Linked DNA regions of Homo sapiens: region 1 is linked to region 2. The links come from fine-mapping of genetic effects on gene expression. A gene starts in region 2. The other region holds a variant in brackets. All regions are shown on one strand. Distances are between the middles of the regions. Region 1 overlaps UCK2 (uridine-cytidine kinase 2). Region 2 holds the start of UCK2 (uridine-cytidine kinase 2).

What was found.
Region 1: its variant is fine-mapped to the expression of UCK2 in cerebellar hemisphere (GTEx, PIP above 0.99). The same link has a PIP of 0.9 or more in cerebellum.

What each region holds. Positions count from the first base shown.
Region 1 is chr1:165,900,991-165,906,366 of GRCh38, forward strand. UCK2 (uridine-cytidine kinase 2) reads left to right here. Exons shown (of 7, transcript NM_012474.5): 5 at 2,192-2,289; 6 at 4,931-4,979. Among named protein-coding and RNA genes, the nearest start is that of MIR3658, 4.2 kb to the right of the region's middle. The variant C/A (reference allele first, on the strand shown) is at 2,678.
Region 2 is chr1:165,824,999-165,830,374 of GRCh38, forward strand. It overlaps UCK2 (uridine-cytidine kinase 2), which reads left to right and starts at 2,616. Exons shown (of 7, transcript NM_012474.5): 1 at 2,616-2,934. The coding sequence starts at 2,836. RefSeq lists silencers at 2,405-2,654, 2,735-3,214, 3,275-3,504 and an enhancer at 2,970-3,523.

The DNA of each region.
Region 1 (5,376 bases), 76 kb after region 2:
GCTGTGTGTTTTGGCGGTGCTACTCTGGTTAGCCATGTGTGCCGGAGCTCTGGGGACTTCTGGGGGGTGAGCCACGTGGCAGCTCCTTAGGGCTCCTTCTTAGCGAGTCTCCCAGCAGATCTGCCAGAGCAGCAGGTCGGCAGCAGGAGCCCAGGTCCAGCGTTGCAGGGGTGGGGAAAACCATTTCCTGGCTGGAGAAGGCTGCTGCTGGGCTGGGTGGGCAAGTCCTGACACATTAGCGATCAGCCAACTGTTTTATTACCAGGTCTCCCATGGAGAAAACACTTCGTAAATCGAGGAGCTGTTACAAAAGTCGAATGGCAGCATCATTAGTGCCCAGCTTTCTGGAAATGTGGATTTCCTGACAGTTTTCTCACCTTCTCATCTTATAGATTTCCTGTCAGCCTGGATCATAGCCATGACAGCCTCCCCGTTCCCTGGCCTCTCTGTGCATGCACCTGTGCATGTGTGTATAAAGACAGAATTATTTAGACAAATGGCTTTCAGAAGTTCCGTCACAGATATACCCCATGTTCGTTTACAGTGAGTTTCACCCAACATTTGAGTCTATTTACTGAGAAATGGTTGGGAAGGAGCTGAAGAGCCACTGCAAATGATTGTAGATGGATGTGGTAACTTTTTGGGGTGAAAGATTTAGCAGCTCAGATGATAAGGTTAGATTAAGATAGCATTTAAAATGACATCTGCAAAGAGAGGCAGTTTTAATTAAGAGAATCTACTTCCAAACTCCCTACTCATGGGGAAACTAAGGCTCATGTACAGCGGCAGAATGAGGGTGATCAGTCTTCTTTCTATTTATTGACAGAAGACTCTATTTAATAAAGAGTGTATGGGCTGCCTATAATTCCAGCACTTTGGGAGGCCGAGGCAGAAGGATCACTTGAGCCCAAGAATTCAAGACTAGCCTGGGCAACAAAGCAAGACCCCGTGTCTACCAAAAAAAAAAAAAAAAAAGGCTCACACCTGTAATTCCCAGCACTTTGGGAGGCTGAGGCGGGTGGATCAGGAAGTCAGGAGATCGAGACCATCCTGGCTAACACGGTGAAACCCCCATCTCTACTAAAAATACAAAAAATTAGCCAGGCGTGGTGGCAGGTGCCTGTAGTCTCAGCTACTCGGGAGGCTGAGGCAGGAGAATCGCTTGAACCCCAGAGGCAGAGGTTGTAGTGAGCTGAGATCGCGCCACTGCACTCCAGCCTGGGTGACAGAGTGATGAGACTCTGTCTCAAAAACAAACAAACAAAAAATTAGTCCATTGAGGTGGTGTGTGCCTGTAGTCCCAGCTACTTGGGAAGTTGAGGTGGGAGGATCACTTGCTCAAGCCCAGGAGGTTGAGGCTGTAGTGAGCTATGACTGTGCTACTGCACTACAACCTGTGTGACAGAGCAAGACACCTTGTATTAAAAGAAAAAAAAATTTTTTAAAGAAAAAAAAAAAAGAATGGTAAAAGCCCCTGGATAAAACTGACCGGGGGAAGAAGGTAGAAGACAGAAGATGGTGAGTTTGTTGTCAATTTGGGCTTCATCTCAGCCCCAGCCCACCATTCTCTAGGCCATGGTTTTCTTATCTTTCACTGAGTGATTTTTTTTTTTTTTTTTTTTTTTTTTTGGCAAACCTCTGTGCATGAGGTAGGTGGAAATGGTTAACCATGGCTGGGTCCTCAGCCTGGCCTGGGCTCCATGCTGCAGAGGGGGCATGGGTGGGAGCTGGGAGCAGTGAGCTGATGCCTGATCAGTGGGTCGCTGGACTTCTGAACGCAGGTAAGTGCATGCAAGGAGGCAGCGTGCAGCCCAGCCCTCTCGGGGCCCAGATTGCTTCTTGTTAACAGTGAGCTCTCCAGGAGTGCCCTGCTTTTTTAAAAAATTCACACTGAAATTTTGTTTGGAGCAAATGTTGCTTGAAACAAGAAGGCTGTTGGCCTCCATGGACAGCCTTTTGTTTCAAAGAGCATTGTGTCATTGCCAAGTTTGACCATTGTAAGATGTCAGAATGTAACTTGTCTTTTCCGAAGCCGCTGCTGATCTGCTCTTGGTCAAGCCTCTCAGGATTCCAGCTTGAGAATCATCTAGAGTAATTGTGGAGCCTGTGGGAGCTAGGTCCACCCCATGAAGGGCGGGTGTGTGCTGGCTCCTACACCGTTTTTTGATTCTTGTTTTCCCTTCTCTTACAGTATTAAGGGACATCAGCGAGAGAGGCAGGGATCTTGAGCAGATTTTATCTCAGTACATTACGTTCGTCAAGCCTGCCTTTGAGGAATTCTGCTTGCCAGTGAGTTGTGTTCTTGGTTTGTTTTTGTTGAATGTAGAATTTAAAATTTGATGATATAAACGAAGGTGTGCAAGTTTGTGGAGCTCCCCTGCCTGAATCTCACTCCTCTCTCTGAGTGATCCTCTGTCCTGAAGTCCTAAGAGAGGGCAGCCCTTGGTCCTTGTGTCCTCTGTGTTCTCCAGGAGCCCTGTCCTGCTGTTCTTTCTTTGGGTAGCCCTGTAGGGTCCTGCCAGTCCTTAGGCAGGTCATTTAATTCCCAGCTAGTTCTAGGTTTCTTGCTTGGTGGGGTCATGGTGTGAGACCGTTTACTGAGGGTGTATCATATCCAAGGAGAGTCCTCAGCCATTTGGATCTCTGAAGGGTCTGCAATGGGTGACGTATGGATGCA[C/A]TGGGTGCTGTGCCCCGAGATGTTCCCCTCTGAGCCTCTCCTGCCATCACCACTGAGCCCTGCTTTGAGCTTGTCTTTAGCTCCCATTTGGAGACTGTCATGCCTTACTGGAATAAGCTTCCTTCCCTTCACCCTTGCAGACTCACCAGTCCTTCCTGTGGCAGCTAGGAATTCTCTAGTGAGGTGGCTTTCAGAGAAGGAAGAACACAGAGAGTTGGCCCTCAGCCCAGGAAAGACAGGAAGGGGCATGTTGAGGGAAGGCTACCAGAGACAAGAGGTGTGGTGTGCTGGGGCTGCAGAAGGAGAAGTATTTAACTCAGGAGAATCCTACTGAGTCAATGAGTCTTCTCCAGCTTGGCCAAACCATGGTCTGGCTCCTGAATTATTTATAGTTAAGCTCTGAGACCGGGAGGAAGGGAAGGAAGAGCTTGGGACTTAACCTGGTCTTGGTTGAGATACACTGGGAAGGCTGGAATCTCTGAAGACATTGAAGATTTAGAGTAAGGCTGGGTATTGGAATTTCCCTATTTATTCTAACAATAAACTTCATTCTTTTTCTTCTGGGAAAATATCTCAAACTGTCTTTGTTTCTTTAAGGATGTTACTAGCTTTTACAGCAACCCATACTTGACTTTGGTTTAAATGCGGGACAGGTGGACTTTTTGAGCCAACTGAGTAACATTGATGCCCTATCCATTGCCCTGGAGACTATTGAGTTACAAGAGTAGGTTACTGGAAAGAGACCAGAGGGGGCTGAGGAGCTGTGAACTTCTTTCCACCCAGTTATCTATCTGAGGACCTCTCCTGTTATTTTTGACTTAATAAGAACACAAAATGAATTTATTATTGGATATCAGTCATATTTAACTGTCAGTTTTCTACGTTTAACTTAGTTGTAACAAAGCTAAAAATTCTGCAGACGTTTTCTGGGTTATTTCTGCTTGCTTCCACTGTCCAGCCACTCTTTGCTCAGGGAAGATCAGCTCATTCCCCTGTAAGCCAGGAACTTGGACCTGATAAATGTCTGCTCAGTTCAAGTTGGGTTTGGGGCTGACACCGTTGCCTTTCAGCAATCCTAGGGCAGAGGCTGCACAGAGTAAGATGCCCACATGCTTGAGGTGTGGTTTATGTGTTCTTATGCTAGACTTAGTTTGTATGCCAGGATGCAGTTACTTGTAGAATGGTCTACAAAATCTCAGTAAATTTGGACCAACAAAAAAGAAAAAGAAAAAAGAAATATGCCTCTTTGTGGCCTGACTTTCTTTCTTTAAAAATTGGGTAATAATAGAACCTATGAACTGGTCATCAGTGAAGAATACTTTTTCTGGTTTTACCCTGTGCTAGGAGTGAACAGTGTCATGTTTCAGACTATGTGTAAAAGTCCAAGGTGAACCAGTCCCCTGGAAAGTTTGGGTTTTTCTAGTTCATATTTGTCCTAGTGGAATAGAGGCAATTAAGTGTTTGGCTTCAAAGACCATGTTCTCTGCATAGGTCATAAGCTGAAACAGTGTTCAGCGTTAGAAATGAGAACTTGGTTGGGTGCAGTGGCTCACGCCTGTAATCCTGGGACTTTGGGAGGCCCAGGTGGGTGGATCGCTTGAGCCCAGGAGTTTGAGACCAGCCTGGGCAACATGGCGATACCCCCTCTCTATAAAAAATAACAAAAATTAGCTGGGTGTGGTGGCGGGTGCCTGTAGTCCCAGCTACTCAGGAGGCTGAGGTGGGATGATCTCCCCAACTCAGGAAGTCAAGGCTGCAGTGAGCTGTGATGATGCCGCTGCACTCCAGCCTGGGTGACAGAGTGAGACGCTGTCTTAAAAAAAAAAGAGAGAGTGAGAGAGAATTTGAATAAAAGCTAAATTCTTGTAATGTAGATAAAGTGGATAAAAATCCATGGTAGATAGTTATCAATCGAATTATGAACTGGTTTTGGATTAACCACTCAGTCTGGACCATTTTCCCTCACTGATGCATGAAAGTCTTCAATCCTTCTTTCTCATTTTCCTCATTCCCTGCTTATCTTCTTTCATTCACATTTCAGCTAAACAAGGCACTTCCTTAGGTTTCCCCAAATTTCTATTAATAGATGCATTCACTGTGAAGTTGTAAACAATATTATATTTGAAGCCTTAAAAGGTGCTCTTCTGGGCTCGCTAGTATGAATGCTGCCCTTTCCCCATATTCCCTTGGAGAGGGTCTCGGGCCAGTTGTCTCTTAACTGTATTAATGCATATTAACTGTCTTTCTCCACAGACAAAGAAGTATGCTGATGTGATCATCCCTAGAGGTGCAGATAATCTGGGTGAGTCCCTGCAGAGTGTCATCCTGGAGTATAATGTCTGCCCTTTGTCAGTCATAATTTGGGGCAGGATGTGGTGACCCTACAGGGCTCTGCAGACATGGCTGCCCTGCTTGTCTGTGATTGTGAGCCAGCAGAACCTTTCCACCTACACGTCTGGCCTCAGGAACAGGTCCCTGGGTGTAGGCACCCATGTGTTACGGGGACAGACATGCACTTGTGCTTCTCTGGCAGAATAGAGGGCTGTAGATTACCTTTTACTATCACTTCCCAATGATGACACTTGGGTACTTTGCTTCTGAGGCCACCTTTTAGCAAAAGCAGATTCCCTCCTTGATCTAATTTAGAATGACCTGCCATCACGGTAGCCCTTTCTAAAGGGAGCTGGTTGCTACCATTA
Region 2 (5,376 bases):
TTCTGCTCAGTGGGCCTGGGGGATGTAGAAATGAGACATTATCTCTTTTCATTTGTTGAGGCCCTACAAGGTGCCAGAACCGTTCCAGGCGTTGGGGATATAGTAATTAAAAACAAAACAAAACAAACCAAACAAGAAATGTATAAGCCAGTGTGGAGTAAGTCAATTAAAATTAACAAAGCAAAAGGAAGTAAGTCCTATAATAAAAATGCCTTGATGGATAGAGGGATGGGTAGATGACCAGTTATGTTTTAAAGCAAGTATATATATAGTACGATGTTAGTGATAGAGTCTAGGTGGTGGGTATACTGGTGTTTGCTGTAAAATCTTTCAACTGTGCTCGAAAATTTTTATGATAAAATATTATGGAATAAACACTATAGGAATGACAAGGAAGATGCAGATTTGAGAAAAGTTTATGAAAGACATGGCATTCTTTTTTTTTTTTTAAGAGACAAGTCGATAGAGGAGTGCAATGGCATGATCACAGCTGCAACCTCGAACTCCTGGGCTCAAGTGATCCTCCTGCCTCAGCCTCTGGTGTAGCTGGGACTACAGGTGTGCACTACCATGCCCAGTTAATTTTTGTACTTTTTGTGGAGATGGGGGTCTCATTATGTTGCCCAGGCTGGTCTCAAACTCCTAGCCTCAAGTGATCCTCACTCTTCTGCCTCCCAAAATGTTGGGATTACAGGCATGAGCCACCCCACTGGCCTTTGGCATTCCTTTATCCTCCTCCTCTTCTCCTTAACTACCTAATATCCCCATGCTAACCCTTAGCTGTAGGTTCAACTTCCAAATTCCAATGGGCTATAAAGAGTTCTACAAAAGTCCATGATGACTAATAAATCTATCTAGTAGAGAAAAGACCTTTTGGAGAAGAGGCTAACTCTAGGACCACCTAAAACTCACCCACTCCATAGCTATTTGGTAAGGCACCCCTTTAGGAAACTTCACCCAAATGCCTGCTTCTGGGTACCAGGTAGTGGCCACTCTCCCCATCTTTGTCTCCTGTCTGAGCTGCTACCGAGTTTGATGTTAGATGGTGACATAAAATACAGTAATTCCTAGATATATGCGGAGGGACTGGTCCCAGGACAGCCTACATGTAACCAAATCCACACATGAAGTCCCACAGTCAGTCCTGAGGAAACTGCACAAATATTGTGTTTTCCATCTGCCCTTGGTTTAAAAAAAAAGCTGCATAAAAGTGAACCTCACAGTTTGAACCAGTGTTGTTCAAGTGTCAACTTTAATTTAAAAGTGAAAAAAGTTTGTTTTCTCTGGTATCCTTTTTTTTGTTTTGTTTTGTTTTTGTTTTTGTTTTTTGACACAGGCTCTGGCTCTGCTGACCAGGCTGGAGTGCAGTGGGGAGATCATGGCTCACTGCAGCCTCGATTTCCCTGGCTTGAGAGAAAATTATTTTTTTCAAAATAATCTTCAATTTAAGGTAATTTACTAAGTTTCAAAAGATAATGCTATTGACGTAAATTCTGTTTTAGATTGTAGGCCCCATCAGCTCATTGATACTAGTCCCAAGTTCACAGGAGAAGAGACTGGAAGTTACTAGGCTAGTCCTGCCTCTCTCAGGTGTGTCCCAGCAAAACTTTTCTTTCCAGTTTCAGCGCTTTAGAAACCTTTTCTCTTCAAACACTAATACAGGGCCTAGACTGTACCAGCACTGTTCTGAGAACTTTACATACACTAATTCATTTAATTCTCACAAAAATCCTGGGATGTAATTGCCATTATTATTCCCATTTAACAGATAAGAACACTGAAGCACAGAGAGATTAAGTAACTTGCTCAGGGACCTGGATGTGAATGCAGAAATCTGGCTCCAGAGGTGGAGTCTGAAACTGCCTTTCTAAGTGACTGATTGCCAATCTCTGGAAAACCGTTCAATTGAAGATATTAATGGATCAAAATGTCAGTATGTTTTCAGATACCCTAACTCCATAGGAAGCTCAGTGTATGGGATGAGATACTGTGGTTTAGAAGGGAATTGCTTTTCCAACGGAGGGCACCCTTCAGATAAGCCCCTCAAATTGCCCTTCACTAGAGAGTCGCACGAGGACAGGCCTGCTAAAAAGGATGGCGCTGGGGGGTTTCCAAGACAGGAAATATCTAAAGCCAGCGGCTGACATATTATCTTGGCGAACGGGAGAAGGGAAAAAGAACCCTCATTTTTTGGAAACACAAGTTTTTAGCCTGGATAATGGGTAAATGACATTAACTCTTCGTTCCACACTAATCTTTCAAGCTTGTTCAAATTTTGCTTCTCAAACCTGGGCCATTCCTTCTTATCTAATCTGCCTATTATTTCCTTCAAGCTTTTTATCCCTTCTGAAAATAGGTGGTAGCATACCAAATTAAAATACAGAACAGCCTGTTTCTTTCCCCCAGGGTCCACTAGGGCGCGTCGGAGAAAGGGTTAACCGGGCGGGTGGGAGGGAAGGTCGGGCTCACACCTTTCGCAGAGACCTCGGGCGGCGGCGGGGCCCGGGAGGGGCGGAGGCTGGGGCCAGACGCCTCGCCGCCTCCGCCTCGGCGAATAGCAGCGCGCTGCCCGCCCGGATTGGAGCAGCAGCATCACGCTGACCTCTGCCTGGGATGTAAACCGGACCAGCCGCTGCGGGCAAAGGAAGGCTCTTGGCTCCTTCGGGAAACCCAGCCCCGTCACCGGGCTCCGAGCGGCTCGCAGGCGAGCGACAGCGGCCTCAGCCCCGGCAGCGCCCAGCGGCGGCTGCGGAAAGCGGAGGGAGTCCGACGCGGGCGCGGGCGGGGAGCGTGCGTCCGTTCGCACAGGCAGCGGGAGGAGGGGCGGCGCGAACCATGGCCGGGGACAGCGAGCAGACCCTGCAGAACCACCAGCAGCCCAACGGCGGCGAGCCCTTCCTTATAGGCGTCAGCGGGGGAACAGCTAGCGGCAAGGTACGGCGGGGCCCGGAGCCGCGCTCCCTTCCCGGCTTCTGTCCCTGGGCGGCGCATGTGGCCGGCGGCCGCGGGCCGTGTCAGTTGCGGCAGCCACCGCGTGGCCCGCGCGCCTCCGCTCCCGGCCGCGCTCCAGCGCCGAGTGCGCCCCGCGCGGCCTGGGGGCGCTGCGGCGGGGGCAGGCGAAGACTCGGGCCTTGGGGGTTCCGGGGGTACGCGGCCACGATCGCAGGGCGGGAGTGCTCCTCCGGCTTTTCTCCCCCCGCGTTAATAACTCGTGGCCGGGGTCCTATGGGGGAAGGGCAGGGAAGCGGATGCTTATTGTTTTGCAACTCCAGTGTCGGGGGAGAGGGCTTTCCGCAGGATCCCCCACTAACCCCCGATGGACTCCCTCAAGCCCCGGTCTGGCACAGACGTGCTCGCCCCGCGGCGCAGCCTGGTGCCGAGGGCGGAGCGAGCCGGGAAGCGCGGCCGAGAGGGCGAGGGTGGCGGGAACGCGCGAGGCGGCATCCCGGGGAAGGGGAGCCCAGTGTGGGGCTGCACGCAAGGGCTGGGGATTACAGGGGTTTCCGGGTAAAAGTCTGAGAGCCAAATAGGTGCCGTGACATCAATGAAACGATAATAGTAGGGGCTTCTGTTTTTTAAGGTTATAAGAGGAAACGTGGTCGGCTTCAATGAGAAAGTTGTACTGGCTCCAAGCTCTTCGGTGTCCAGGACGTACGCGTCTTGGATCCACGGAAGGGGGTCATCGTATGGGTGTCTGACCCTCTTAGGAGCCTGTTTCCTTTGTTTTATCCGCAAGGCAAGGAGAGACAAGGGAAATGACTTCCTAGCTTTACCCGGGGTTTTTTCTGCAGGTGGAGAAGGGTGGAGTCCTCCCAGATGGTTCTTTCTTTGCTCCCCTAACAGCCTTTAAGATGTGGCTACTTGTTTTTCCCACCGTTTAACACCCTCCAACTTCATTTGGAGCACGGGTTCCTCAAGGGATCCTGAGAGCTGGGTGCTGGGTGCTGGTTTGGAGAGGCAGGATGATGCTTCTCCCGGCTGGGGAGAGCAGAGCAGGAAGGCTGGTTGGCGCCATGAGGAAAGAGCCACGAGGTTTTAGCTCCCGAACCGACTCGTCAGTAGCCCCTCCTCCATGTTGGTTTTACATTTTTCCCTCCTGGTCTGGACTACTTTAGCGCAAGGAGCCCAGCCAGACACGGCGGCTGGCGCTGCTGGACTTCTTTATTGATGAAGTTGATCTCGTCCGTAGCTCCCGGGGTTAGGAATCGGCCTGCTTTAGGTCCTGAAGTTTCTGTTCTGTGTGCTCCCTGGTTGAAGGCTTTTAAAAAAATTTGTAATTTTTGAGTATGTTCTTTACTATGACTTATACTAGTAATTCAAAGCAAAACCAGAATGCTAGCCCTTCAGGAAGCTTTACCTGTTCTTTTAGAATTATTCTTGCTCTTCTGGCATATTCCTGTTGGATTGGGAGCATTTTTTGTTGTTGTTGTTCATGGCTGTTTTCCCAGCCCTCCTAGCACAATGCCTGCCTGGCATGTAGTGGGGTCCAAATTTTAAGCTGAAGTCCAGTCCTCCTAAAGTGGGGAGGAGGCTTAAACTTGCATATGAGCTTTTAGAAACAAAATGATCTTGGTAATCATCTGAATAATTTAGTTACCACGAGGGTGAAAACTGCGACCCTAAAAGGTGAATAACTCTGTTATTGTTCTTCTTGTGTGTTTCTCAGTCGTCACCTGTTCTAACTTGATAATCAAGCTTTTGGTGTTACTTGGGTAAAGTGAGGGATGGGATAGTGGTGAGCCAATGTGGGAGTAGCTAATTCTCTGCTATTTTTATCCAGGAGGAAGAGTGTAGAAACTCTCAAGAAAGGAAGGGTCCGTTTTTCTGCAGTTTTCAAAGCATGTTGTACATTTTTATTTATTAATTTAATTTTTGAGACAAGGTCTCGCATTTCCACCTAGCCCAGAGTAAGTGGCACTGTCACAGCTCACTGCAGCCTCAGCCTCAACCTGGAGTAACTGGGAGTACAGGCTGGCACTATCATGACTGGCTAATTTTTTTGTTTGTTTGATTTGTTTTGTTTTTGAGACAGGGTCTCACTCTTTTGCCCAGGCTGGAGTGCCGTGGTGAGATCTTGGCTTACTGTACCCTCCACCTGTTGGGCTCAAGTGATCCTCCCACTTCAGCCTCCAGAGTAGCTGAGACTACAGGCTTGCACCATCATGCCCGACTAATTTTTTTTTTTTTGTAGAGAAGGGGTTTTGCCATGTTGCCAGGCTGATCTCAAATGCCTAGACTTAAGTGATCCGCCCGCCTCTGCCTCCCAAAGTGCTGGGATTACAGGTGTGAGCCACTACCTGGGCTGGCTTTTTAATCTTTATTTTTTTTATTATTTTTTTTTTTTGAGACAGAGTCTTGCTCTGTTGCCCAGGCTGG